4 linked regions of the Homo sapiens genome follow. The protein of the gene in region 4 interacts with the protein of the main gene of each other region in a pairwise test. Each region holds a gene or a part of one and is shown on either strand. Other genes may lie near its edges.

Region 1 (7,023 bases), on a different chromosome or scaffold from region 4:
AGGCAACAGGTCCAGGCAGGCCTAATGCGTCCAGGTGGGGTCAGAGCAGGTTCTCATCCTGGCCTGGACTCCTGGGACCCCAGGCTGGCCCCAAGCCCATCTCTCAGAGCCAGAGGTGGCTGCGGGAGGGAGGGCAGCTGCCCAGGGATCAGGCTGGATTGTGTATAATCCGCGATTAGAGAGCGTGGGTGGGGAGGAGACGGGGCCTGAGGCGGGCCGTGGGCACCTGCCCTATTTACACAGCTGGTGGGTGCCTTCTGGAGAAAGGAGGTGGAAAGGAGGCAGAAAGCTGGCCACCTGCCACCTGGGCCCAGGTGCCCCCAGGGCAGTACCCAGACTCTTCCTTTCCCTGAGTTCCGGAACATCTCACCCACCCCTTTCCCAGCCCTGCCCAGCCCCTCCCAGGAGGGCCACACGAATCTCCATCCTGCCCTGCTCACAGCTCCTTCCTGCAGCCCCCTCCTCCCCAGCCAAGCTCAGGGAAGACTCTGGAAGGGCAGGTCTGTGCTGTGGCCCCTGAAGGTGAGCCTGGACACCGAGCCCCGAGCTGGCCACTCCACACCCACCCTGGGCCCTGTCCTCAGAGGACTCACCCCAGATACTGCACAGACCTTGAGGGCAGGCTGCAGTCCTGGGCTGGGGTCATGCCAACCTGATGGGGTGACCTTCCAGGCAGGCTCCTTTGGGCACACCCCTCCACTTCTGCAAGGGCAGCAAGCCCCTTAAAATCAGATGAGCTGCTGTAGAAGTGGCAGGTGTCGGGGGTTCTGACCACTCCCAGAGGCTCTGCGGTGCACCCACCCCAGCTGCACGGCGGCCCCTCCCCATGCCTCCCTCCTTGAGTTCTGGTCGCCCAGGCACCCCGACCCTATCAGCATCAAGAACCTGGCCTCTCCCCTCAGCTGCTTGCCTCTGATCCCCTCAGTCAACCCCTGCTGGGGGTCCTCAGCCGACCACAGAAGCTCTGGGGGTGAGTACCCCTCCAGGGGCTGCCCCCTGCTCTCTCGGGCACCCAGGGTGGATCCAGTGCCCCTTTGAGCCTGCAGCCTGCATCCCCCTCCTCGAGCCGCTGCTCCTGTGGGTTCACTCTCCCCACACCCTTCTGCCCTGGCCGCCTGCAGCAGCCCCCAGGCCCAGCCTGCAGAGGGGACGGTGGCAAGCAGACCCCACCTGTCCCTCAAGTACTTACCTAGCCACTGCCCTGCCATGCCGAGCCCGTGGCCCAGCAGCCTCTTCTCTAAGAGTATCTCCACACCACCCCCAGTCTGGTGTCTCCCCACAGGTGGGGGTGGCAGCAGCCCTGGGATGTCATCCATCCCTGTAAGTGATACTGCGGGTAGTCGGCAGACAGACCGGGAGGTGGCCCAGCCTGGCTCCTCCCTGGCCGGGGAGGCTGCCCAGCCTGTGCTTCCTGTCCCGCCCGCTCTGTTTCAGCCTGGCCCCAGCTGCCCCCCAGATCCGCGCCTCCCGATCCCCACCTGCTCCCTGCTGTCTGGACTTGGACAGCTCTAATGCTAGAGCGTCTCAGGCCGGGACTGACACTTTTCTGTCCCGGCCCAGCAGGTCCACCTTGACCCAAGCCAGCAGCTCCTGGCGTGCTAGCCCTTGCCACACGCGCAGACCCTTTGCCACCCATTCCCCTCCCATCAGGAGAAAGCTGTGGACCTCAGGGTTGCGAATGCTGGGGTCGGCAACAAACCTGCTCTTTCGGACGCTCTTCCTATACACATATGTCATACACACTTCATAACCATAACCTCCATTTTCTGAGACCCAGTGGCACCTTCATGTGCTTCAAAGCAATTCCCTGGGACCCAGCAGAGGGATCCTGTGCCCCGCCCTCCTCCGCAAGAATGGCCCTTCCCAGAGCACCACTGCCAGGCTCGCACGCCCCGAGCCCCTCCGGGCAGCCGCTGCCACGGCCACTCAAGGTGCTACTTACATGGGGTGGGCAGGGGGCCAGGGATAGTCGGAGATGGGCAGGGCGGGGGCCCCACTGGCGAGGGGCCCTCGGCTTCTGGGGTCCCTGAGCCCCTCCTCACAGAGTTCAGGATGTCAGAGATCCTGGGGGCTGGGGCGGAACAGACGAGACGTGAACACAAGGCAGGCACGGGGGGCACGCAGGAGAGAAACCATGGGCAGACAGCCAAGCCAGAGATTGAGGGGCACAGAGGCAGATGTGGGGGATGGGGCACAAGGGGACAGAGGGGAGGAAGGGAGAATGGGGGGGTGTGGGGGGAAGATGGTGGACCTGGGCCGACAGAGGGGATATAGGGGAAAGAAGGGGATGTGGGGGATGGAGGGGAGCTTGGGGGACAGAGAGGGAAACGGGAAATGGAGGAGACGTGGGAGACAGAAGGGAACGTGGGGGACAGAGGGGCATGTGGGGGGACAAAGTGGGGGTGTAGGGGATGGGGGGCATGAGGGGACCAAGGTGGGTGTGGGGGACAGAGGGGGGTGTGGAAGACAGAGGGGGTGTGGGGGACAGAAGGGGTCATGGGGGATGGGGGTGCGTGAGGGGACCAAGGTGGATGTGGGGGACAGAGGGAGTGTGGAGGACAGAGGGGGATGTGGGGGACAGAGAGAGGTGCAGGGGACAGAGGAGGGTGCAGGGGACAGAGGAGGGTGCAGGGGACAGAGGGGGATGTGGGGGACAGAGGGGAAGTGGAAGACAGAGGGGGTGTGGGGGACAGAAGGCGGTGTGGGGAACAGAGGGGGAGGTGGGGGACAGAGGAGAGTATGGGGGACAGAGGGGGTGTGGGGGACAGAAGGGGGTGTGGAAGACAGGAGGTGTGGGGGACAGACGGAGTGTGGGGGACAGAGGGAGAGTCTGGGGGACAGAGGGGGTGTGGGGGACAGGAGGGGGTGTGGAAGACAGAGGAAGTGTGGGGGACAGAAGGGGGTATGGGGGGCAGGGGGTGGAGGACAGAGGAGGGTGTGGGGGACAGAGGGGGATATGGGGGACAGAGGGAGTGTAGGGGACAGAGGAGGGTCTGGGGGGCAGAGGGAGAGTGTGGGGGACAGGGGGTGTGGGGGACAGAGGGAGTGTGGGGGACAGAGGAGGGTCTGGAGGACAGAGGGAGAGTGTAGGGAACAGAGGGGGTGTGGGGGACAGAAAAGGGCGTGAAGGGACCAAGGTGGGTGTGGGGGACAGAGGGGTATATGGGGGACAGAGGAGGGTGTGGGGGACAGAGGGAGAGTCTGGGGGACAGAGGAGGGTGTGGGGGACAGAGGGAGAATGTGAGGGGCAGAGCAGAGTTTGGGGAGGAAAATGGAAATGAGGGAAAGAGGGGAATTTGGGGGACAGAGGGGGATGTAGGGATAGAGCGTGGACTTAGGGGGACGTGGAGAGGTTGTAGGCTGACCGAGGGGGATATGGGGGGACGGAGGGAGACAGGGGGACAGAGGGTGCTGCTGCGGACAGCGTGGTGCGTGGAGAGGAGGCTGCAGGAGTGAAGGGCAGATGCTCTGGCTGTCGGGTGGCGTGGGCTGAAGCTGCTGGGGGCAGAGGGCACCCTCCAGGGAGAGGCTGCTGGCCAGCAAGAAGCTGTCAGGTAAGTGGCCCTTGAGGAACGCTGGACGGGGTTACAGGGAGAGGAGGGAGTCACGGGCGTTACAGAGGAGGCCTGGCCTGGCCCCATGAGGACAGCCCAGGTCAGCAGAGGCCAGGCTTATGATTCTCCGTACTATCCCCTTGTTGGTGAGCTCCAGAGACCCTGGTCGGGGTTCCAGTTTTGGCACCTTCCTCAGCCTCCTAGACTGAGGGAGGGTGCTCAGGGGTTGGGGCCACATCAGGAACCAGGGTGGCCCTGAGTGCAGCTCCTGGGCACCATGGGCAGGGCCCCTGGGTGGGTGTGAAGTCTGTGGGGCTGGGACAGTGATCAGCAGAGAGGGCCTAGGGGCATGGGGGGCCTCGGAGGGGCCAGGGCTGCCCAGGGCTGGGACAGACATTTTGGAGAGGGGCCTGGGGCTGGACAGCGAGCGGGGAGTGGCAGTGGGAGCAGGAGCCGTGGAGGGGTCTGGGCCCCTTAGGGAGAAGCCAGGAGCTGCCCTGCTGGTTAGCATGGGAGCCCACAGGAAGCCCCGCCAGGGCAGGACTCCAGGCTGCGGCGCCGGGGCAGGGTAGCTGGGCCGTGCATGCAGGTGGGAAGCTGCTGAGCGCCGGCCATTCGCAGGGAGCTGTCCGGCAGCAGAGGCGGCAGGCCTGGGGGCCACTACTTACACGGGGAGGACAGGGGGCCTAGGAGAGCCGGAGACAGGCAGGGCGGGGGCCCCGCTGAGAGGGGGCCCTCGGCTTCTGGGGTTCCTGAACCCCTTCTCACAGAGTTCAGGATGTCAGAGATCCTGGGGGCTGGGGTGGAACAGATGAGACGTGAACATGAGGCAGACAGACACACGAGGCGGCGGCAAGGCGGAGGAGGCCAGTGGGAGGGGTCCCGTGTTCTAGACCCCTTGGGCCCTGGGATCAGGCCCTGAATCAGAGCCTGCCTCAATAGCAGGGAGCCCCCCCGCCCGCAAGCTGAGGTGGAGTGAGGCCTGCACCGACCCTGAAGACTGGAATTGAGGCCCGAGCCTCCAGGGCCTCCCATCCTGCCCAGTGGCCTTGAGCAGGAAAGTGGTCCAGGGCCCTCCTCACAAAGAGGTGGGGCTCGATGGGCTGGGGCCACCCTGGAAAGCCCCAGTGAGGGATTGTGGGGTGATGAGGCTGGAGCCAGGGTCCACGCTCAGCCTGCCCTCGGCTCTGGAGTGGCCCCTCTAGGGGGTTGCCAGCCCTCCAACATGACCCCCACAGCAGCAGGACCCAGGCTACTTACATGGGGCTGGCAGGGGGCTAAAGGGAGCCGGAGATGGGCAGGGCAGGGGCCCCTCGGCTTCTGGGGCTCCCGAGCCCCTCCTCACTGAGCTCAGGATGTCGGGGACCCTGGGGGCTGAGGCGGAACAGGTGAGGCAGGCAGGTGGGTGGTGCGCCCGCAGGAAAAGAAGGCAACTGGAGAAGGACAGGGGGAGGCCAGGAGGGAGGGAGGGGGTGACAGCTGGATACCTGGGGCTCCTGGGGTGGAGGTGGGGTGGCCACCTGTGGGGGTCCTGGGCCTGTGGTGGCCGCAGCAGGTATGTGAAGGCTGAAGGAGCCAACACGGGACCGGTGCCAGAGCCAGAGCCAGCAGAGGCCAGGGCAGCACAGGCCAGTGCAGGCTGGCGCAGAGTCAGAGGCCACCCTGCCACCCTAGTGCTGTGACCACCCCTGGCCAGAGCCAGCAGAGGCCAGGCGCACGGAGAGGGAGTGACAGTCATCGTAGGGGCATGATGGCCACTGAGCCTGCCTGGACTCTGTACCAGCCTCAGGGCAGGCTGGCAAGGCTTCTTTCTGCACGGGGTGGGGTGGGGGGTGTCTGCCTCCACCTCGAGAGGCTGCTCGGGCTCAGATCTGAGCCACAGCTGCTGGCTTCTGGCTGTCTTCTCTTCTCCCCTGCAGGATCCAGGCTGGGCCCCCCTCCCAGGTCCCCTCCCTCACTGCTCAGCACCCCACTCGGCTGAGGGTGATGGAGAACCTCTGGACAGCCTTCATGCTGTTGCCTTTGGGGCCTGTTCCAGACTGCAGGGGAATCACACAAACACCCACTCTCCGGCATCCAGGGCCCAAAGTCCTGTGCTCATCTCTGCTCAGGGACAGTGTCATAGCTGGGTAGGCCGGGCAGGAGCAAGGCTATGCTTTGGACAGGTGAGAAGTTTTCTCCCCTAAACTGGCAGAGTGGCTGACCCTTTTTGGGCACCAGGGTAGCCCTGAGAACAGCATAAGGCTTATTAGGTGACCGTGTGAGCGATGAGGGTCAGGAGGCCCCATGTGGGTGGTCTGGAGGCGGCAGAATCCATGGAGCATGCCCCAGTGCCTGGTGCCCTGGGGGCCTCTTGGGGAACACACAAGACATTGGCCTGGGTGAGCAAGGGAGGGGGCCCTGGAATCTGTGGTGCAGAAACCCACCGCAGCAGGACACTCCTGGCTAAGCAAAGGCAAACACGGAAACACTCACCCAGCTGCCCGGCCACTTGGCAAGTGCATGCTGGACAGAAACGCAAGCTTAAGGAGCTTTAAGACAAGGACAGCATCTTGGAACAAATTCTACCCATGGGCCTGTTTCCCCGTGAGGGTCCTGGTGTGGAGAACCTGCCTCCATGCAAAGCCGTGGCTTCCTCACTTGGATGCGGTGACCGAGACTGCCCAGCTGTCGGTCATCTCTGCCATGCTTCTCCGCTCTGGGCAGGCCTGACACCCAGGCTTGGAGCAGGATTACAGCTACAGGGTCCCTGAGCCCCTCAACACATGCATAAACTAGGCGTCGCAGGAGAGTTGACCCTGCCCAAGTCCCACCCACCTCAAAGAGCAACCCAGCAATGCCAAGGCCGCTGGGGGGGCAAGGACTCAAGTGCAGGTACCTTTAGCGTCTTCATCCTCTATGGTGGTATTGGCACTGTCAGAAGACTCCTGAGGAAACACGGGAGGCAGCGGGTCAGGATGCGGCCAAGGATAGGTGGGACGTGGCTGAGGGCAGGTGGACAGGGCTGGGCCTGTGTCAGGACCAGCCCAGGCTCTGAAGCTGATCTCTGCCTCGGCTGCTTCCACGGGGCTTAAAGGCCAGGGGCTCAGGGGACATGCCCTCTGGCGGCTGCAGGGCCCCAGCTCTGTGGACCTCATGCGGCAGTGACCGGAGAAGACACCCAGTTCTGTGCTGGTCCCTGGGAGGGCGCCCCTCACCAGGGTGCATTCTCACGGCAGCCAGCACAGGCTGGCACGGAGTCCGAGGCCGGCCCTGCCACCCTAGTGCTGTGGCCACCCTGCATCCCCAACACATGAGGGCTCCACTTCTCCCAGCAAGATGAGCCTGGCAGAGAGACTGGTATGCTCAGCTGACTCTTTAACAAGAGAGGAAAATGGGCTTTTTGAAATTCCAAGACGTAAAACACAATGGGACTGGCTGGTTCCAATGAAGCAGCAGCCGGTGTCATCCAAAATACAGGGTGAGGCGT
Region 2 (7,639 bases), on a different chromosome or scaffold from region 4:
AGCCTCTACCTCCCCAGCTCAAGCAATCCTCCCACCTCAGCCTTCTGTGTAGCTGGGACCACAGGCACATGCCACCATGTCCCGCTAATTAAATTTTTTTTTTTTTGGTAGAGATGGGGTTTTGCCATGTTGCCCAGGTTGGCCTCGAACTCCTGAGTTCAAGTGTTCCTCTCGCCTCAGCCTTCTGAGTAGCGGGACAGGCATGCACGCCTAGCTAATTTTTTAATTTCTCGTGCAGATGGGGCTGTTCTGAACTGGCCTCAAGCGATCTTCTTGCCTCAGCTTCTCAAAGTGCTCGGATTACAGGCAAAAAAAAGCCACCACACCCGTCCTGATTTTCAGAATATTAAGTAGCTCAGTTTCAGTATTCCAGAGTTGGTTTTTACACAGGTAGGACGCTAGATTATTCCTATGTAACATGTAGATAAGGCATTGATAAAATATATCATATGTGGCCTGGCAGGGTGGCTCACGCCTGTAATCCCAGGACTTTGGGAGGCCATGGCAGGCGCATCATCTGAGACCAGCCTGGCCAATGTGGCAAAACCCTGTCTCTACTAAAAATAAAAATAGAAAAACTTAGCCAGGTATGGTGGCGGGCGTCTGTAATCCCAGGTACTCGGGAGACTGGGGCAGGCAGAACTGCTTGAACCCAGGAGGGAGAGGTTGCAGTGAGCCGAGACTGGGCCACTGCACTCCAGCCTGGGTGACAGAGTGCGGCTCCGTCTCAAAAAAGTATCATGCTATCTCATATCAAGTATGTGTAAGTGATGTGCCAAACAAATTGCTACTGGCAGGCTGAGGTATGCGGACCACTGGAGCCCAGGCTGCAGTGATCATCATGCCTGTGAACAACCACCGCACTCCAGCTTGGGCAACAAAGCAAGACCCTTTCTCTAATGGAGTGTAGGGGAGGAGGAAGAAGAGGAGGAAGGGAATTCAAGAACCCAAAGTTACCGGGTGCAGTGGCTTACGCCTTTAAAATCCCAGCACTTTGGGAGGCCAAAGCGGACAGATTGCTTGAGCCCAGGAGTTCAAGACCAGCCTGGGCAACACGGAGAAACCCATCTCTACAAAAAATAGAAAAATCAACCAGGCATGGTGGTGTGCGCTTGTGGTCCCAGCTACTTGCTTTTTCTTTTCACTGGGCAAATGAATGTTGAGAAGAAAAACTAAGGAAATACTATATATAAGGAATAATTGCTCATGTTCAACTCACCGTTTCCTCAATTTAAAAAAAGTGTGTGTGTGTGTGTGTGTGTGTGTGTGTGTGTGTAAACGGGGGGCTCTCACTATGTTACTCAGGATGGTCTCAAACTTCTGGGCTGAAGCGATCCTCCCGCCTCAGCCTCCCGAAGTGCTAGGATTACAGGCCTGAGCTACCGTGACCGGTCCCCGTTTCCTCAACAGAGGTTAAAAAGCTCGTGCTCTGGCCGGGCACGGTGGTTCACGCCTGTAATCCCAAAACTTCGGGAGGCCAAGGCGGGCGGATCACCTGAGGTCAGGAGTTCGAGATAAGCCTGGCCAACATGGTGAAACCCCGTCTCTAACTAAAAAAGATACAAACATTAGCCAGGCGTAGTGGTGGGAACCTGTAATCCCAGCTACTCGGGAGGCTGAGACAGAAGAATCGCTTGAACCCAGGAGGCAGAGGTTGCAGCGAGTGGAGATCGCGCCACTGCACTCCAGCATGAGCAACAGAGTGAGACTCAGTCTCAAAAAACAAACAAACAAACAAACAAAAAACAAACACGTGCAGTCTCAAAAAACAAACAAACAAAAAACAAACACGTGCTCTGGAAGAGGCAACCGAATGCGCATTAGAATCCCCCTAGCATTTAGTCACGCGTTCTTATTTCATTTTTTAAAACAGCGATAATACCAACCAAGTAGAATTACCAAGAGGATGAAATTGGGTAATGTTTGTAAAGCATTCCACACAATCCCTAGCATATTAGGAGTAGCCTGGGAGAGATGAGCATTCTCTATGTAACACAGAAGGCCCGAATCCTCTGGAGAGTTAAGGCCTCTCAATTAGCTGTCAGGGGACCAGCAGGCCACGCCACATATTTTCCTTATTTGGCAAGTCTTCCATTTTCAGTCTTTTCATCCACAAAACCGAGATGGATGAAAAATGCCTACGAATCCGCCGTTCTTACGTCCCAGGCTTGTCGTGAGGATCAATGGGACAAGCGGCGTGAACCGACCAGGGCCCATCAAGTCCGAGAAGCCCCGGGGGGCATATGGAGGGACGCCGGCCCCCTTAACGGGCCCAAGGCCGGGACTGCGGCCGCCCCCGCCAGTACTGCCCGCCGGCGCCCGACACCCTGAGCAGGGCTCGCTGGTAGGCCCAAGGATGCCCAGGACCACACCCTGCCTAGCACTCAGGCAGCCCCAAGGCCGGCACCCGCTCACCTCGGCCCGCTCCGGAGGAGAGGGAGTGGTGAGAGGAAAGGGCGCCCACCTGAGGGCACAGGAATCTTCTAGCGAAAAGATCTACTCAAGGCTGGCACAGCCGGGGACACCCTTCGCCCCAACCGGCCGGCGTGGGCCTGGCGGGGACTCCCGCGCTCGGGGACGCGCCTGCGCCTCTTCGCGGAAGGGTCGGAGCTGCGCGGCTCCGAGGACCCGTCCCTCCCCCCGCTCCTCGCCCAGCCTCTCCCGCGCTGACCCGCGGGCTGGCGGCCCGAGCGGCGACGGGACGCGACGGGGAGCAGGCTGCTAACGGGCCTCCGGCGCCCACGACCGCGCAGGGCCCGCGAGGGGAGAGCGCGCCCCGGCGCCGGGAGGCCACGCACGCACATAACGGGGCGCCCGCTGGCCCTCACCCAGGATCTCCCGGCGCCGGTCGGCGTGCGGCTGGTCGGTGTAGACCCACTCGAAGTCTTCCCGCGAGACGCGGCTCCCCATGGCGACAGCGGTGGCTTGCAGACTAGCTGTCGGCTCTCGCTCCCAGCCGGCTGCTCAGAGGTGGCGGCGGCGGCGGCGGCTCCCCGGCTGGTGTGGTGTCGGCCGGCTGTGGCGGAGCGCGGAGGAGACGGAGGCGTGGGCGGAGTCCCGAGGCCCCGCCCCCCCCGGCCCGCCCGCCTGCCTCTCTGGGTGGAGGGCGCGTGGCGCTCCCAGGCCCCCGTGCGGGGCCGGCTCTCAGCGATTCTGGGACGCGGGGTTCTGAGCTTCGGTGACTCGGCCACCATCCAGGATGCCGCGTTCTTGCGAGTGCCCGCCCCTGCGGCCTGCTGCGCCGGAGCCCGGAGAAGATGAAAAAGGAAGGAATGGTCTCAAGTGAGATAAACCTGCCGCCCTAACGCCTCCGCGAGGGGAGCACCGGGCACGGCTACGGTCACACCGAGTCTGGAGGCCCCGGAGCCCTTCTTAAATGGCAGCTGGCCTAAGTTTTGTTTAATTTTTAAAAAGCAAATTAGCCATTGAGTCATATTTCGCTGCCTTCTGGAAATAATACCTCAGGGAAAAAATGCAGAGTGCGTGACAATTAAAAGCTAATCAAGTAAAAAGAAAACACCATTATTAAGAGGGGGTGATGATGTGGGATTTGTTGTTGTGCTTGAATTATTCTAGTGTGACCACTTCTGTTAAGAGATGATTGCTCAACCTTGCATCTACCTGTCGCAGAAGTAATCAACCACAACCTCTTCCTGAAAGAAAGGTTTTGAAACGAAACTAATTTTGTTTCAACATTAGTTACCACGTCTACATCAAAGAGCAACTTAAAGATTACAAAAAGAAGATAACCAAAGCAGGTGTGCCTCCTAGTCAAAGAACATGCTGTGCACGCGCACACGGCACACACACACACACAAATCTGATCGAGCCCCTAGATCTGACTGTTAATTTATAGAAAATAGAAAGGACATTTGGCCGGGTGCGGTGGCTCACGTCTGTAATCCTTGCACTCTGTGAGGCAGAGGCGGGTCCATCACCTGAGGTCGGGAGTTCGAGACCAGCCTGATCAGGATGGTGAAACCCCCGTCTCTACTAAAAATATAAAAAAATTAGCTGGGCGTAGTGGCAGGCGCCTGTAATCCCAGCTACTCAGGAGGCTGAGGCAGGGGAATCGCTCGAACTGGGAGGCAGAGGTTGCAGTGAGCTGAGACGGAGCCACTGCACTCCAGCCTGGGGGACAGACGGAGACTCCCTCTCAAGAAAAAAAAAAGAAAATAGAAAGGACAGAGGAATGTGTTAAACTAGGCCGTGGGGATGAAACTAGCAAGATCCAACTCTGGGAGACTATATGGGACAATGTCTGGGTTCTCTAATAAATGAAACTCAAGGCAAAAAAAGAGAAACCTGTAGATTAAAAGGAGTTTAAAAGACATACCAACCAATTGCAACGTGTTGACCTCATTTAGATTCTGATTGAAATAGTTTAAAAACATTGACATGAAATAATTGAACTCAGATATCAATTGGATATGTGATGATATTAAGGAATTATGAATTTCTTAAGTGTGATAATAGTATTATGGTTATAGTGGGTTTTGTTTTTTTTGAGACAGAGTCCTGCTCTGTTGCCCAGGCTGGAGTGCAGTGGTGGCCTCATGTCTCACTTCAGTCTTGACCTGAGCTTAAGCCATCCTCCCACCCCAGTCTCCCGAGGAGCTGGGATCACAGGCGTGCACCACCATGCTTGGCTACTTTTTTGAATTTTTGATAGAGATGGGGCCTCACCTTGTTGCCCAGGCTGGTCTCAAACGCTTGGGCTCAAGTGATCTCAAAGTATTGGGATCACAGGCATGAGCTACTACATCCGACCCCAGGAGCATTATTAATAAGTCCCTAAGACCCTCTCAGTACATTCACTTCTGAAATAGAGAGGGCCAGCACGGCTGAGACATCTAGCAGAGAAGGCTGTGAGAGCAGAGGGGAGACAGAACAGTGACACCTGGAGTGGAGGCCTGAAGGCTGATCAGAGCCCAGCGAGGGTCATGTCTGCAGGGCATGCTAGCAAATGCGTGGCTGGGTCAGCCTCCAGAGGGTCCCAGTCTCGAAAAAGGAGTGGGATTTGATGATGGATAGATACACAGGTCTGATCATGCAGGAGCTTTTTAGTTGTTAATGAAATGGTGGAGGAAAAAGAAGGTGGGGAGTGTCACCTGGAAAAGGACAGCTTTGTATTTGCCAAGTTTCATCTGGATTGGCAGATGGCACATGAAGCTGATAATTGGACTCAACTCAGGAGGAAGTTTTCAGGTGCTGACAAGTAAATGTATCCCTGCAGTTCAGAACGCAGTTGCTATCACAGGCATGTGTGAACTGGCACACCAGTCCAAAAGGTGTGCGGAGGCTTACGTCTGTAGTCTGAGCACTTTGGGAGGCCGAGGTAGGGGGATCGCTTGAGGGCAGGGGTTCGGGACAAGCCTGGGCAACATGGCAAAAACCCACCTCTATAAAAAATACAAAAATTATGCCGGGTATGGTGGCTCATGCCTGTAATCCCAGCACTTTGGGAGGCCAAGGCGGTCTCCAAGGTCAGGAGATCCAGACCATCCTGGCTAACACGGTGAAACCCCATCTCTACTAAAAATACAAAAAAAATTAGCCAGGCATGGTGGGGGGGGCGCCTGTAGCCCCAGCTACTTGGGGGGCTGAGGAAGGAGAATGGCATGAAACCGGGAGGCGGAGCTTGCAGTGAGCCGAGATCGCACCACTGCACTCCAGACTGGGCGACAGAGCAAGACTCCGTCTCAAAAAAAAAAAAAAAAAATTTAACTGGGCGTGGTGGCCCATGTTTGTGGTCCCACCTATTGCTGAGGCTGAGGTGGGAAGATTGCTTGAGCCCAGGAGGTCGAGGCTTCAATGAGCTGAGAAATGAGCTGAGATTGTGGCACTGCACTCTAGCCTGTGTGACAGAGTGAGGCTTTGTCTCAAAAACATTAAAAAATAAAAGAAAGAAAGAAAAATGCAGAGTTTGAAAAAAAATGTGAATCTGGATATACCATTTTTTTTTTCTGAGATGGAGTTGCGCTCTGTTGCCCAGGCTGGAGTGCAGTGTCAAGATCTTGGCTCACTGCAACCTCTGCCTCCTGGGTTCAAGCGATTCTCCTGCCTCACCCTCCCGAGTAGCTGGGATTACAGGTGTGTGCCACCACGTCCAGCAACTTTTTGTATTTTTACTAGAGACGGGGTTTCACCATGTTGGCCAGGCTGGTCTTGAACTCCTGACCTTAAGTGATCTGCCCTTCTTGGCTTCCCAAAGTGCTGGGATTACAGGCATGAGCACCACACCTGGCTTGGACATTCTTTTTTTTTAAAAAAAGTTACAATTCATTTAATAGCAACTGGTAATCATGAAATTTTCTTATTTTGTTTAAACCCTCTTTAAACAAAAGTCTGCAAATTAGCACTGATCATTTGCAAAAGTCATTACATATACTGCCATTTTTCTTAAGGTTGACCAAAGATAACCTAGAATTATAGCCGTTACATAATCACACAAAATGATTATATATTAATCAGACCTGGTTTATCACCAGCATTTATAAAAACAGACGTAGGGAAAGAACTAGGTCTAGGGACACGTACATGGTCTTAATATAGCGACTGTTTATCCTGTCCTGACTATTACAAAATCAATTTTGACATTCTAAAGTAAACTATTTGAGCTACAGGATTGTCATGGGCATTGATAGCTATTTTAATGATGTCTAGGCATGCTTCTTTAATTTGGACTTTTAAAAGTTCTTAATATATACGCGTAATAAAAAAGTAAGCTAAGAAGTATAGCCAGGCATGGTGGCTCACGCCTGTAATTCCAGCACTTTGGGAGGCCGAGGTGGGTGGATCACAAGGTCAGGAGTTCACGACCAGCCTGGCCAAGATGGTGAAACCCCGTCTCTACTAAAAATACAAAAATTAGCTGGGCATGGCGGTGGGTGCTTGTAATCCCAGCTACTTGGGAAGCTGAGGCAGAAAACAGCTTGAACCCGGGAGGCGGAGGTTGCAGTGAGCTGAGATTGCACCACTGCACACTAGCCTGGGCGACAGAGCGAGACTGTCTCAAAAAAAAAAAAAAGAAGTATAAATAAAATGCCTTGAAGTTTTAAAAAAAGATTCTTAATGGATTATCTAGCTTTCACATCTTTTCCTTAACCTTGTCAAATAATTTGTCTTGAAGCAAACATACTAGTTATTCTGGAAAAACGCTCTCCAGTCGGCTGTTGGAAGCTGTGGTGAATCGCAGCCAGCCATGATCATATTAGGAAATTTAAGATGAAGTAGTTTTCAGATGAGGGCAGCTGTACTTTTGAAATCAATATGGATTTTTCCTTTTCCATCTGCTTGATTTTTGAAAGGGCAGTTTATTTTTGAGGCCATTTCAATAGTGATAACAGTTGAGATTGAATGGTATTGACTACTGTAATTCATAGAAGAGTAATACAGAAAACATTCTTTATTCACTTCAAGCAAATAATCGTAAGAATTTTATGTTATCTATTTCTTTTCTTTTCTTTTTATTTTATTTTTGAGATGGAGTTTCGCTCTGTCGCCCAGGCTGGAGTACAATGGCCCAATCTTGGCTCACTGCAATCTCCGCCTCCTGAGTTCTGGTGATTCTCCTGCCTCAGCCTCCCGAGTAGCTGGGATTACAGATTCATGTCACCACGCCTGGCTAATTTTTGTA
Region 3 (7,023 bases), on a different chromosome or scaffold from region 4:
GACAGGTTGCAAGAACAATTAAAAATGTACAACTATTTAAATAGAAAAAAAAGTCAAAATAACAAATGTACTCACCATCTTTAGTTTCCAGCTTAATAAATTCTTCCTCTGATATTACCAAAGGAAGCATGGTGGTAGTAGACTGCTGTAGCCATGAATAAAATACAGTTTTTATGTCTTCTTCACTTATGTCTTTAGGCTGCCAGAAAAAGGAATAGTAATGAATTATCCTCATATCTGAACTTAACTTTAACACCCTTATTTTAACATCTGATCTTCCTAATAAAGTGTAAGCCTGACCAAACAAATCCAATGAAGGATGTTCATGTTCTATAGGCACAGGTCTGGGATTTGACATTACAGTTAGCACAATGAGTGCAGTGTAGCCTGAAGAAACATCTGTTAGGCGGAAAAGTTTTAAATGCTCCTTTTCTCTATGCCCAGTGATACATCTACCATAATGTGGCTCACTCAATAACCATTCCAACCCCATTCTCCCTTTCCTCCCTCTACGATAAAGACAGGAAAACAAATTCCTTTTTCTTTGAGACAGAATCTCGCTGTATCGCCCAGGCTGGAGTGCAGTGGCGCAGTCTCCACTCACTGCAACCTCTGCCTCCCGGGTTCAAGCGATTCGCTTGCCTCAGGCTCCCAAGTAGCTGGGATTATAGACATTGCAGCTAATTTTTGTATTTTTGGTAGACATGGGGTTTCACCATGTTGGCCAGGCTGGTCTCAAACTCCTGGCCTCAGGTGATCCGCCTGCCTTGGCCTTCCAAAGTGCTGGGATTACTGGCATGAGCCACCACGTCTGGCCTAATAATCTATTTAAAAAAATTTTTTTTGAGATATTGCCTAGGCTGGAGTGCAGTGGCACAATCATAGCTCACTGCAGTGTGGAACTCCTGGGCTCAAGAGATCCTCCCACTTCAGTCAGCCTCCTGAGTAGCTAGGACTACAGGCATGTGCCACCACATGTGTCTAATTTTTATTTTTACTTTTTTTGAAATAGAGTCTCGCTCTGTTACCCAGGCTGGAGTGCAGTGGTGAGATCTAGGCTCACTGCAACTTCCACCTCCTCAGTTCAAGTGGTTCTCCTGCCTCAGCCTCCTGAGTAGCTGAGATTACAGGATTAGCACCACGCCCCGATAATTTTGGTATTTTTAGTAGAGATGGGGTTTCACCATGTTGGCCAGGCTGGTCTCCAACTCCTGACCTCAAGTGATCCACCCATCTCAGCCTCCCGAAGTGTTGGGATAACAGGCGTGAGCTACCACGCCTGGCTTAATTTTTTTTTTAATTTTTTTGTAGAGATGGGGTCTTGCTATGTTGCCCAGGCTATTCTCAAACTCTTGGCCTCAAGCAATCCTCCCACCTCAGCTTCCCAAAGTGCTAGGATTACAGGTGTGAGCCACTGGACCCCACCTGCAAAGATCTTTAAGTTCAATATCTCATTTCCTGACTCTACCAGTATCCAAAGAATTAACTGAGTAAAAAGTAAAACAGTCTAGCACTCTTTTAGGCTACAATATTAATACTGAAACAACATGGGACAATTTTTTTTAATTACAACCACGTGGCAAAATGATCAATCTCTTAAAAGCCAAAAATATTCATATTTGCATTGGCAAATATAAGTATTTGTGTTATCATTTATTAAAGATTTCTCAGCTTCTCAAAAAGTTAAACATAATTCCTAGGTATATCCCAAAGGAGCTGAAAAGAGGAACTCAAACAGATACTTGTACACCAATGTTCACTGTAGCATTATTCACAGCAGCCAAAAATGTGGAAACAACCCAAGTGTCCATCAACAGATGAATGGATAAACAAATGTGGTATATGCAGTCAATGGAATAGTATTCAGCCATGAAAAGGAATAACATTCTGATACATACAACACAGATGAGCCTTGAAAACATTATGTTAAATGAAATAAGTCAGATACATAAGACAAATGCATACTTCTACTTATATATGAAATATCTAGAATAAGTAAATTCATAGAGACACAATATACATTAGAGATTACCAGGGACTGGGGAAAGGAGTGGACGGGGAATTATTGTTTAATGGGTACCAAGTTTCTCTTTGGGGTGATGGAAAAGTTCTGGATATAGATAGTGGTGATGGTTGTACAATATTATGAATGTAATTAATGCCTTTGAATTATACACTTAAAAATGGCGAACATGGCATATTTTATGTTATATATAGTTTAACACAATAAAAAAAGATTTGTATCAAAAAGGAATACAACATTCTTATTACTTAGCTAAAGCAACTAGAAATCTTACAAAACGTGTAAAAGAATTTTGATGTAACATATATATTTGAACTCACTAAATTCTCTCTAGGTTGTAACTTTAGAGATCTTGGAATTTTAGGGGTAACTTCCACTGGAGTTATCCTGACTACGGCATGCATTTCTATATTTAGTCTCTTCCTCAGGTCATCTGGAATCTGAAATTTAAAAATAAACAAAAATATAAATATATTCAAAGCTTGGTTAAGAAATATTTCATAGCATAAATATTGATATATTAGCTTCTATGAATTTAGGTGAAATAACAGAAGCTATCATAATAACTCATAGTTGTCTCAGTCCATGCAGGCTGCTATATCAAAATATCCTAAACTGGGTGGCTAACAAACGACAGAAACTTATTTCTCACAGTTCTCTTTTATAAGAGCACGAATCCCATTCATGAAGGCTTCACCTTCATGACCTAATCACTTCCCAAAGACCACACCTCCTAATACGATCACCTTGGGAGTTGGGATTTCGACATATGAATTTGAGGAGGACAAAACATTCAAATACCAACGGTGTGACCAGATGGATGTTCAGATATTGTTATACCATGAACATTTCAATCCTCTCCCTACATTTCTTTCCTTTTCTTTACATAATCTTCAGAATTAGAGCTTTAAATGTATGTATTTGACTGTATTCACCAAACCCATCTTTTAAACTATGGCACATTTACATTCAAATTAAATGTTATTTCTAATCTTTGAGCAGCCTTTATTTGTGAAAGTTAACAACCAATGAAGAAGCTGGAATGGCCAAAACTAATCACAGACAATCTGCCTGATTGTCTGATTAAATGATTAGATCCAGACAGAAACTTAATCTAAAAAGCAGAGTAAAATTTCTCCCACCCCCTAATGAAAATGTTCTAAACTTAGATTGTGGTGATGGCTGTACAACTAGTATAAATATACTAAAAATGACTGAATTGTACACTTTAAATTTTACCTCAGCCGGGCGCAGTGGCTCACGCCTGTAATCCCAGCACTTTGGGAGGCCGAGGTGGGCGGATCACAAGGTCAGGAGTTTGAGACCAGCGTGGCCAATATGGTGAAACCTCGTCTCTACTAAAACTACAAAAATTAGCCAGGCGTGGTGGTGGGAGCCTGTATCCTAGCTACTCGGGAGGCTGAGGCAAGAGAATCGCTTGAACCTGGGAGGCAGAGCTTGCATTGAGTGGAGATCGCCACCACACTCCGGCCTGGGCGACAGAGTGAGACTCCGTCTCAAGAAAAAAAAAAAAATTATCTATATATATATATATATATATATATATATATATATATATATATATATATATATATCAATAATGATGTTAAAAATTTTTCTCAACTTCCCAAATATAAGTAAGCACTGAAAGACATAAAGACGACTTTACTCTCTATTAACTTCTAAAGAGCAGGTGCAGACATATTAATGGTAGACAAAAGCATAAATAAAAACTCTAAGGTACATATTCTGACTTAAAGAGAATTTAACAATCAAGTTTCCTGTTTGTTTGTTGTTTTTTTTTAATCACCATGCTTCACAGGGTAATAAAGGTTCAAGTTAACATGAATTTGTTAGTTGTATCACCAAGTGATCAATTTTGATCTCTCAAGCCAAGTCCATTTTAGTACCTGATTTCACCTACTGTGACTTCTCATTGTCCATGGCTCTTCAACCTTCAGTGGAGTGGGAAGGGCGGAGTCCTTATTGCTATCTTAATCACAGGACTTTACCATCAGCACTTCTCCCTGTTCTCACCATATAATTTCAAGGAAATAAAAGGATATTCCCATCTAATGACAGAACCAGCTAAATCATAAGCTCAGTGTTAGATATTTTGAATTTGAGGATGCAGTGGGATCTCCTGAACGGACAGTTTAAAGCTAACAGAAAATAATGATCTGAGGCCAGGCACAGTGGCTCACGCCTGTAATCCCAGCACCTTGGGAGACTGAGGCAGGCGGATCACTTGAGACCAGGAGTTCAAGACTAGCCTGGCCAACATGGTGAAACCTCGTCCCTACTAAAAATACAAAAATTAGCCAGGAGTGGTGGCGCACACTTGTAGTCCCAGCTACTCTGAAGGCTGAGGCAGGAGAATCATTTGAACCTGGGAGGTGGAGGTTGTAGTGAGTGGAGGTGGTGCCACTGCACTCCAGCCTGGGCAACAAAGCAAGCTTCTAACTCAAAAAAAGAAAAGAAAAGAGAAGAGAAGAGAAGAGAAGAGAAGAGAAGAGAAGAGAAGAGAAAAAAGAAAAGAAAAGAAAAGAAAAGAAAAGAAAAGAAAAGAAAAGAAAAGAAAAGAATGGTCTGGAGCTTTAGAAAATGATGTAGGCCGGCCAGGAGCAGTGGCTCATGCCTGTAATCCCAGCACTTTGGGAGGCCGAGGCAGGCAGATCACCTGAGGTCAGGAGTTCCAGACCAGGCTGGCTAACATGGTGAAACCCAGTTTCTACTAAAAATACAAAAAATTAGCCAGGCGTGGTGGTGCATGCCTGTAGTCCCAGCTACTCAGGAGGCTGAGGCAGGAGAACCACTTGAACGTGGGAGGCGGAGGTTGCAGTGAGCCAGATCATGCCACTGCACTCCAGCTTGGGCAAGAAGAGTGAAACTCCATCTTGTGGAAAAAAAAAATAGAAAAGAAAATGATGTAGGCCAAAGAGATTAATGCTTTGTCAGTTATTTGTATAAAGGTCACAGGTAAAACTGTTGGAGAAAAAAAAAAAATCTACAAAAGGAGACAACCTTCTCTTTCTATTTTATTCTCTTTCCTAACAAGTTCCTCTCTTTATCACTATGAAGTCTTACTTTACAGTGGTTCAAATTTAGGTTCCAATAAATGGACTAGTGACTTATGTCATATAAAGGTAGCATTAATATTTGTGGCCAGGATGAGGGGCTGGAGCACTAGTTGCCCTGTCTACTTCCTCTCCGTTATACACAAATTAAAGAGCAGACACCGGCAGGGTAAGCAGCTCCTGGATGCATTCCAATCCAGGTGCCACCACATGCAGCAGGAAGGTTACCTCATGCCATGGATCTCTCCCTACACTGGCCCTTTTCCCTAATATTAACAAGTTGCTTTCGGTAACTGGGGAACAAATCTGCAAGCATTAAAGATGGGAGGCTTTGTAGGGCACTCCATCCTGATGAACCCCCAAGTCAATCTGCCTGGGTTTGAATCCTAGTTGTAACACTAGCTATGCAATCTCAGGCAAGTAATTTTGACCTCTCTGGCCTGAACCTATCTAAGCTTGTACCTATTCAAGCTTACTTGGCCAGAAAACATACAATCTTTATCCAAACAAGGACTTTACTGCAAAGCGTAAATGTGTCCCCCAAGTGCCTTTAGGCACTGTGTTTCTTTTTAATTGATTTTCAATTTATATATGAAATACTATTCTAATTCATAATTTGGGGATGTTTAAGCCACATAAAATTTCTCCCAAGTTATAAAATTTATACTAACCCAGACTTTCCCAAGATGGAGAACTTCTACATTTTTGGTATATTTGATGGCATTGTTCAATTCTTCAAGTCCATTCCAGACTACTTGTAGCACACAGGCCTTCTCATCTTCTTCATTATGATCTGACCTAATTTTTTTTTGATCTAGTGGCTCTGACATCTGCTTCTCTTTTTCAGGTGATAACACATTTTGTTTTGTTTTACTTTGCTGTTGCTTTGGAGAAAGTAGCTTAACTAGCTTTCCATATGTCACAGTAAAGCTGGGCTCTACATCAAAATATTCCTGGTCCCATGGAAATACATGAATGGCACAGTGTTTATGAAAAACAGAGGTTGCTGACGCGTTATATATACTAGGAGGTTGAGATTTGCATACTCTGAAAATATTGTCTAGAGGAACAACCTTTGACTGCATATTTTTGAATGCATTGATTTCAGTTAAACCCCAAGATGTCTCTTGTTTCTTCTCAGATTGAAAGGAAAAAATGCTTCCTATCATAGTCCATAAACTTGCTACTGATGATGAGTCAACTGGAATCTCTGACTCGTTTTCATTAGATTCAGTGATTCCCACAGTATTTGACTGAAGTTGCTTGGTTTGAAGTTCTTTCATCATTCCTTTCTGGTCTCTTCCATAACTATGAAGTTTTTTATATTCAGCATCAGCTTTTGAAAATGTATTCTCTTTGGCTCGGCGTGTCTTTGGCTGAATAAGGAGTTTGGTGTCAGTTTCCAGCCTTCCATAAGAGGCAGCTGGTATTAGTGCAACTGTGTAGAAAATAAAGCTCATTAGTGCACATTCATTTCTACTTTGGACTCAATGCTATAGTGTAGAATATGACAGCAAATATTACAATAGCACCTACCAATTTGGATAAATATGTACGTTTGTTGATCAACCCAAACAGGAAAAATGGCTTTTGGAAAAACTATTCGAATTTGATCTAGAAGATGTTGTTCAAGGGAAACAGCATGCAGCTCCTAGAACCAACAGACGAAAAGATCAATTCACTTTACATTTTGTCCACTCCATATCTAGTTAAAAAAAATCTCAATTCTTTTTTTAAAAAACAAATTTTAATGTGCATATTTAATATACACGACATGGTGTTATGAGCTACATATAGATAGTATAATGGTTACTATAGTGAAGTAAATTAACATATACATCATCTCACAGTTACCCACTTTTGTGTTTTTGTGGTAAGAGTAGTTAAAATCTACTCATTTAACATGAATCCCCAATACAATTT
Region 4 (6,636 bases):
GAGGGGAGTGATTCTCAGACCAAGTCCTGGCTGACAAGCTTTCTCTGGTCTTAGCTATACATCTCCTTCCCCCCACGTCCCTCTTTGTGCAGAAATAAAATCCATGTCCCTTGAGCCAGCTGGTGGGGGGTGCTGAGAACCTTGGGGAAGGGCAGGAAGGCTGATATTAATGAGTATTTTCTAATCTTAGTTTAAAAAGGGGGGATGGTGGGGAAATGAGAGGCAGGAAATGAAAATCTAGAAACCCCTGTAAGAATTCTTGAACTGTTGTCATTTTCTTGTCATGCCCTAACACCATGATCAATGAATAGTGTGAACCTTACTAAAGAGGCCTGTGTGCCTGCCAAGGAGTCAGGATGGAAGCGGAGGATCCCAATTTCCTCTGCAAATAGTTGTATTGGGGAGCAGAGCCAATCCTGGAGGCAGATATCACCTTCTGTATAGGCTCAGGAGCCTGTCCCCTGGTGATCAGGGGTGGGCGCATCTAGATGAAGCAGACTAGTCATAGCTGTGGGGAAAAAGGGTGTTTATTAACCAACGGCAGGGGGAGGAGCTGAGCCCAGGCTCCCCACTCTGTCACATGCCTGTTCCACCCACCTGGTTGTAAGTGGGGGCATTCCTAAAGAAGTGTAGCCATTCTCACAATAAATACATTCATTGTGGGGTGGAGGTGGGAGAGGTTGGGTGAAGGGCAGTAAAAACCCGTGGGATTCCACGTTCTCAGCTACAAAAATAACAGTCATCCTCACCCGAGGGGAATGGGGGAGCTCAGTCAGAATTGATTGTCCCATATAGGCCTAGAGACTTCAGAGGCCCCTGGCCCCTGAAAGTGCCCCGGTGAGGTAGGACAGGGGTAGGAGCTAAGCGTCCAAACTCCCAGCCTCTGCCCTTTGCATAGTTCCAAGAATGGGCTTCATGTGCCAGTTGAGACATCAGATTTCTCCTCCCTTTCCCTGCTGTAGTCTAGAGGAAGCAAATGCTTGATTCCCCCAAAAGAGAGGCTGGCTCATTGAGTGCAGTGTTGGTCATCCATCCTAGGCAAGGGCCTGTGAGGACAGTTAAATGGGAGGGGGATCTCCCTCTGAAATGTCCACGGACTAAACCCAACAGACAGGTCCAAGACAGCAAGGGAGGCTCAGAGGTGCATGTGAGTGGAAATGTAAGCACATGTGTGATACAGGTGTGTGTTACCACATGTGCATGGGGATGGGACATGCCTGGAGCTCTGTCTCTCATACTCTTGAGAATGACCAAGGAGAGTGGGGAGGCTGATTCACAAGGGCCACACAGGAAGGGAGAGGAGGGGAGTGATGCAGTCTTACCTCCCCAGGCTGGCCCGTTCCCAAGCTCTTGACAAAGAGGTCACCACATGGGGCTGGGGAAGAGGACCAGATAGGATGTGGCAATTGGGAGGGTACCCCAAGTCCAGAAGCAGGGATGAAACAAGAATGCACCAGGAGAAGGTGAGGGTGGGGGCACTGCAGCCCAGCCGATAAACATTCTTCCATGTGTGCATGTGAATGTACGCAGGGCTTAGGTGGCTGGCAGAGGTCTTGTCTGGTTTCAGGACCATCCAGCACACAGGGCCATGCAGAGGGTGGTGACATTGAGCCCATATGGACCTGCAGAGCCCTGCCTGGGAGAAAGAGAAAGGGTTTGGGCAGATGAATGGAACAGGAGGATGGAGTCCTCACCTATAAGTGTTTAGGTTAGGGGATAGGAACTGGCTCTGGGTCTGCAGGGCACCTGATCCTGAGGGAGCACCTACCTCTGAGGAGCACCGATGGGCCTGGGCTGCTCACATGTGGGTCTGTGGAGACTGAGGAGGGGGCTTTGGCTGGGCCTGACTGGCCAGCCCTACAGGGACATCAAAAAGTTGGGAGAAGGGTATGGAGTGGGGGTAATGAAGGGAGGGTGGCTGTGTTAGGGAGGCAGTGGCCCAGCCTGGGACAGATAGGCTGGCTTGGAAGAGCATTTGTTCTGGGAGGCTGGGCTCAGACAGAGCTCTCATCTAGCTGCTCCACGAGCTGCGTGTGCTTCCTTTTTTCCAGGATGCGGCTGAGTTCCTCGGCGAAGGAGCAGGGCCCTGCTGGTACTCCATTGTTGCTCTGCCTCAGAAGCACATAGCTATTGCCATTCATCCTCCGCAGCCGGCTGGGCAGTGCCACCAAGCCATTGGTCAGCTCAGCCGGTGGCGGTGGGGGCGGTGGGGGTGGTGGGGCTGGGGCTCCCTCCCCAGGGATGATCTGGAGACAGCTGCCCTCCAGGCCCCCAGCCCCCTCATCATCACCCTCATCTTCCTCTCCAGGACACTGGCCTGAGACTGTCTGCAGTTGCACCGCAGATCCTCCTGCCCGGCTGGCCCGACCCAGTGAGTATTTCCGTCGGCGCCCTCGTCTGCCTTCCCGCAGACAGGCCACATAGAGGAGGGAGGAGGCCAGGATGAGGCAGAGGCCACCAAGCGCGGCAATGGCTAGCACATAGAGCAGTCTCACATCAGGTGCCAGCTGTGCCCCAGGTGTGGCAGGGGCTTTTGGAGCTGGGGCAGGAGTGGCTGGCCGGACTGTGAGACTATAGGAGGCCAGCAGGGTGCGGAGGCCATTTTCCTCGGCATAGCAGCCATAGTTGCCACTGTGCTCAGGCTGTGCATCTGTAACCAGCAGCCCGTCCACGCCCACACGGTAGCCACCCTGCCCATCGCTCAGGCCCATGCTCCCATTGAGTAGCCACAAGGCCCGGGCCAGGTTGGATGGCTGGTCACAGGGCAGGAGGACATCATCACCCCGGAGCACAGAGCGGGTCTTCAGTGGTGGTGGTGGCCCTGTGGGGTTTGGGGGAGAGGTCAGTACCAGCCCGTCCCAGGAAGGGATTAGAGATGGCAAGCCAGACTGTTCACTGCCAAGTCCCTGGCACCAAGCACAGAACCCAGAATCACAGTGACAGCTGACCCAGGCTCTGTGCTCATGCTTCCACAGAAGGTTCACGTTGGCCCTTCCCAGGAAGCAGGCAGTGCCTTGGGCCCTTTTCCATTCTCTCTCCATGCTCTCATCCTCTCCTGTGGTTTCAATTTCTGCCATCTGCCAGTAACTCCTAATCTCTACCTCAGACTTCTCTCCTGAGTGCCAGACTCGGATATCTACCATGTGCTGGGCATCTCCACATGAGGTCTCTTGGACACCTCAAAACCAAAGCTTTTCTCCCCAACGACACCAAGTCCTTTCCTTGAATCGCCACCACTGTGAATGGCACCACCAGCCACACAGTTGCTTAAGTCAGAAACCTGGGAGTCTCCCTTCTCTTTCTTGCTCGCCTTTTTGTTTTGTTTTGTTTTTTTGAGACGGAGTCTCATTCTGTCGCCTAGGCTGGAGTGCAGTGACGTGATCTCAGCTCACTGCAACCTCCACCTCCCTGGTTCACGCGATTATCTTGCCTCTGGCTCCTGAGTAGCTGGGATTACAGGCATATGCCACCATGCCCAGCTAGTTTTTGTATTTTTAGTAGAGACAGGGTTTCACCATGTTGGCCAGGCTTGTCTCGAACTCCTGACCTCAAGTGATCCACTCGCCTTGGCCTCCCAAAGTGCTGGATTATAGGCATGAGCCACCGTGCCCGGCCCTTCTTCACGTTTGTATCTAACTGTCACTAAGATTCTGTTTCTGGCATCTATCTTAGACCTGTTGATTTCTCTCCTTCCATGACTCCTGGCCCACTCTGGCCCCATGTAATCCATTCTTCATGAGAGGTATTTTAAAAACACAAATCTGATCATGCCACTCTCCAGCCTAAAACTCTTCAGAGGTTTCCTATTGCTTTTCGGATAAAGACCAAAATCTTCAACATGGCCTTTGCCCACTTGTCCAGCCTATTCTCCTGTCACTCAAATGTGCCAGCCTCCCTCTGCCTGCTGCTCCCTCTGCTTGCATGTCACCCCATTACCCCATGTCCTCTGCTTGCCTGGCTAACTTGTGGGAGATAGCATAGTATAGTGACCAGAAGCACAAAGTCAAATCAGACTGCTTGGGGTCAGGTTTGAATTCTTTTTTCTTTCTTTTTTTTTTTTTTTGAGATGAGATGAGGTCTCACTCTGTTATCCAGGCTGGAGTGCAATGGTGTGATCTTGGCTCACTGCAACCTCTGCCTCCCAGGCTCAAGTGATCCTCCCACCTCAGCTTTCCAAGTAGCTGGGATTACAGACATGTGCCACCACACCCGGCTAATTTTTGTATTTTTTGTAGAGATGGGGTTTTGCCATGTTGCCCAGGCTGGTCTCCAATTCCTGAGCTCAAGCAATCCACCTACCTCAGCCTCCCGAAGTGCTGGGATTACAGGCGTGAGCCACTGTACTCAGCCAGGTTTGAATTCTGGTCCAGTTTCTTAATAGCTGAATAAGTTTGAGCAATTTACTTACACTCCCTGGGCTTCAGAGAGGTCCCTCATGGGGATAATAATAATGGCACCTTTCTCATAAGAATGCTGTGACAGTAGATGACATCATGCATAGAAGTATTTAGATCAGTGTCTGGCACACAGTAAATACTTAATACATCTTAGCTGTGATGATTAACTTTTGTTCTTTCTTCAGATATCAGTTCAGTCATCCGATCTTCCTTGGGGAAATACCCATTACCGTCCTGAACCCTTGTCATCCACTACTTGGCTATAAGCTCCAGAAGTGACAAGACACTTCACATCTTAAATATGTTTCCTAGTTTATAATTCATTTGGGCAGTAAATGTTTGTTGAGCACTTACTCTGTGCCAGGCTCTGTGTTTGAGTCATCCTTACCAAATGTACATAGCCACAGCCACTCAGATACAAACATATACGTACACATGGCAGTAAATGGCAAAGAGGACAGTCTGCGTAGCTAGACCCACACTCATATGAGTCACTTACCTGTATCCCTGCTGCTCTCACAGCCTCGATTTCCTCTCTCTATGTCCTGTATCAGTGCTGTCCTGGGACAGAAGATCAGGTTTTATGAACAAGGGGAACTGGGTTTCAGTTTCCCAGTGAAAGGGTAGATAGGTCTGTTACTAATAACTAGCCCCTGCACTCCCCCAGTAGCTATCAGGCCTTCCTCCTCCACTCAGACCACATGTGACTGTCACCCCCCACCACTTCCCACCTGCTTCCCTGGGACCTGTTGGCTATGGTGGTGGCTGCTGCGCAGGCATGGGTGCCAGGGTCCCAGCCACAGTAGGGGTCTCGGGCCAAGATGCAGTCATAGCAGGATCGGTAGCGGGAGCAGCTGGAGAGTGGTAGCTGGATGACTCCGCTAGGAGCCCCCACATAGAGGCTGTGCTGGGAGCCAGATAGGACAGTTGGTCGGCAGCGTCCCCACTCATACAGATACACAGCCTCTGCCCAACCTCCCCACTCCCTCTTCCTATTTCAGCAAGGCTATATTAAGGGTCACAGAGAAGGGCTACCTGCAATAGAGAGATGACTAGATTTTCCACAGACTGGGACTCCCTGAACACTTGTGTCTCTTCAATAATGTGCATCCCAGAGCCCAGGACTACGGCCTTGTGGATCCAGCCATCAGCTGGTATGGAAAGAGCAGAGAGTTAGACCCCAACTATGGGATCTGCTCTCAGCACCCTGCAAGAGGCCTAATACGAACAGCTCAGGAGTCCTGAGGTCCAGAACAAGGACTCAGCCAGGAGCAGTGGACCCTCAGGACACTGGGAACTCCAGACTAGTCATGGCAGGAATTAATGGATTCAGAAGCATTAGTGATCAGGGCCAACAGGGATCAGGGATTGGGATCAGAAGCACCTGTGCCCAGAAAGAGCAGGTCATAGGTAGGTCCAGCAGGCGTGGTGACAGGTGTCCCTGTAAGGTGTGTGTAGCGTATGTTGCGCTTGAGCAGCAGGGGCCGTCCACGTGTGGGCACAACGGGCCGAGCCATCAGTGGGTGCAACTTTACAAAGTCCAGGACCAGGGATGGCAAGTCTTGGGATGAATTGTAGCCTTGGCTGCGCAATGAATCTGTGATACACTGGCGTGGGGGACGAAGGTGGTGAACCTCGGGACTCCACCACCTGCCTGCCCTCTCCACAAGGCCAGACCCTTTGACCCTTCCCTGGGCTCTGTCTACTCAGCACTGGCCCCAGGCCTGGGCACTCACCGAGCCAGGCCGGGGCTCAGGCACCCCACCCTCATAGCGACCCCAGCGCCGGGAACCATCCTGGTATTCCATATAGGGTCCTGCAAAGACAGCCTGGATCTCTGCCAGGTCATAGCGGCAGATGGCTGAGGCCTCCAGGGTCTTCCTAGAATGGGACATAGGGCAAGGGGGGTGAGTTACATGGAGTCAAGCCTGCCCCCCAACTCGTGCTCAGCCTGAAGCTCACTGTTACCCTGGCCAACCCCAGCTATAGTCCCACAGGGCCTCTCCTGTGAGTCAGTGGACCACTGCATTCATTCTCTGGCTCTAGCCTAGCTTGATGTGCTTAAAATTCTCACTTTGCCAGCACTTTGAGAGGCCGAGGCGAGCAGATCACGAGGTCAAGAGATCGAGACCATCCTGGGCAACACAGTGAAACCCCATCTCTATTAAAAATACAAAAATTAGCCAGGCGTGGTGGCACACGCCTATAGTCCCAGCTACTCGGGAGGCCGAGGCAGGAT

Evidence for each region.
Region 1: the proteins of SEMA4G (region 4) and CAMK2B interact in binary tests that used the Homo sapiens proteins (3 or more experiments, as listed by UniProt).
Region 2: the proteins of SEMA4G (region 4) and DEGS1 interact in binary tests that used the Homo sapiens proteins (3 or more experiments, as listed by UniProt).
Region 3: the proteins of SEMA4G (region 4) and PEX1 interact in binary tests that used the Homo sapiens proteins (3 or more experiments, as listed by UniProt).

The regions. Positions count from the first base shown.
Region 1 is NC_000007.14:44,224,574-44,231,596, forward strand, and holds part of CAMK2B (calcium/calmodulin-dependent protein kinase type II subunit beta), read right to left. Parts: intron 6,482-7,023; coding exon 6,433-6,481; intron 4,929-6,432; coding exon 4,815-4,928; intron 4,352-4,814; coding exon 4,223-4,351; intron 2,072-4,222; coding exon 1,943-2,071; intron 1,319-1,942; coding exon of another isoform or gene 1,190-1,318; intron 741-1,189; coding exon of another isoform or gene 643-740; exon of another isoform or gene 612-642; intron 1-611. UniProt on the Homo sapiens protein: Calcium/calmodulin-dependent protein kinase that functions autonomously after Ca(2+)/calmodulin-binding and autophosphorylation, and is involved in dendritic spine and synapse formation, neuronal plasticity and regulation of sarcoplasmic reticulum Ca(2+) transport in skeletal muscle.
Region 2 is NC_000001.11:224,178,608-224,186,246, reverse strand, and holds the start of DEGS1 (sphingolipid delta(4)-desaturase DES1), read right to left. Parts: upstream 3,008-7,639; 5' UTR 2,911-3,007; coding exon 2,829-2,910; intron 2,568-2,828; exon of another isoform or gene 2,416-2,567; intron 1-2,415. UniProt on the Homo sapiens protein: Has sphingolipid-delta-4-desaturase activity. Converts D-erythro-sphinganine to D-erythro-sphingosine (E-sphing-4-enine). Catalyzes the equilibrium isomerization of retinols.
Region 3 is NC_000007.14:92,511,505-92,518,527, forward strand, and holds part of PEX1 (peroxisomal ATPase PEX1), read right to left. Parts: intron 6,752-7,023; coding exon 6,637-6,751; intron 6,539-6,636; coding exon 5,772-6,538; intron 2,464-5,771; coding exon 2,344-2,463; intron 200-2,343; coding exon 76-199; intron 1-75. UniProt on the Homo sapiens protein: Component of the PEX1-PEX6 AAA ATPase complex, a protein dislocase complex that mediates the ATP-dependent extraction of the PEX5 receptor from peroxisomal membranes, an essential step for PEX5 recycling.
Region 4 is NC_000010.11:100,979,490-100,986,125, reverse strand, and holds the end of SEMA4G (semaphorin-4G isoform 1 precursor), read right to left. Parts: intron 6,279-6,636; coding exon 6,134-6,278; intron 6,005-6,133; coding exon 5,782-6,004; intron 5,549-5,781; coding exon 5,433-5,548; intron 5,305-5,432; coding exon 5,129-5,304; intron 4,959-5,128; coding exon 4,897-4,958; intron 4,751-4,896; exon of another isoform or gene 4,664-4,750; coding exon of another isoform or gene 4,583-4,663; intron 2,822-4,582; coding exon 1,995-2,821; 3' UTR 1,637-1,994; coding exon of another isoform or gene 1,233-1,636; 3' UTR 510-1,232; downstream 1-509. Other genes in the region: MRPL43 (large ribosomal subunit protein mL43), read left to right, coding at 2,052-2,178, 2,309-2,371. UniProt on the Homo sapiens protein: Cell surface receptor for PLXNB2. May play a role in axon guidance.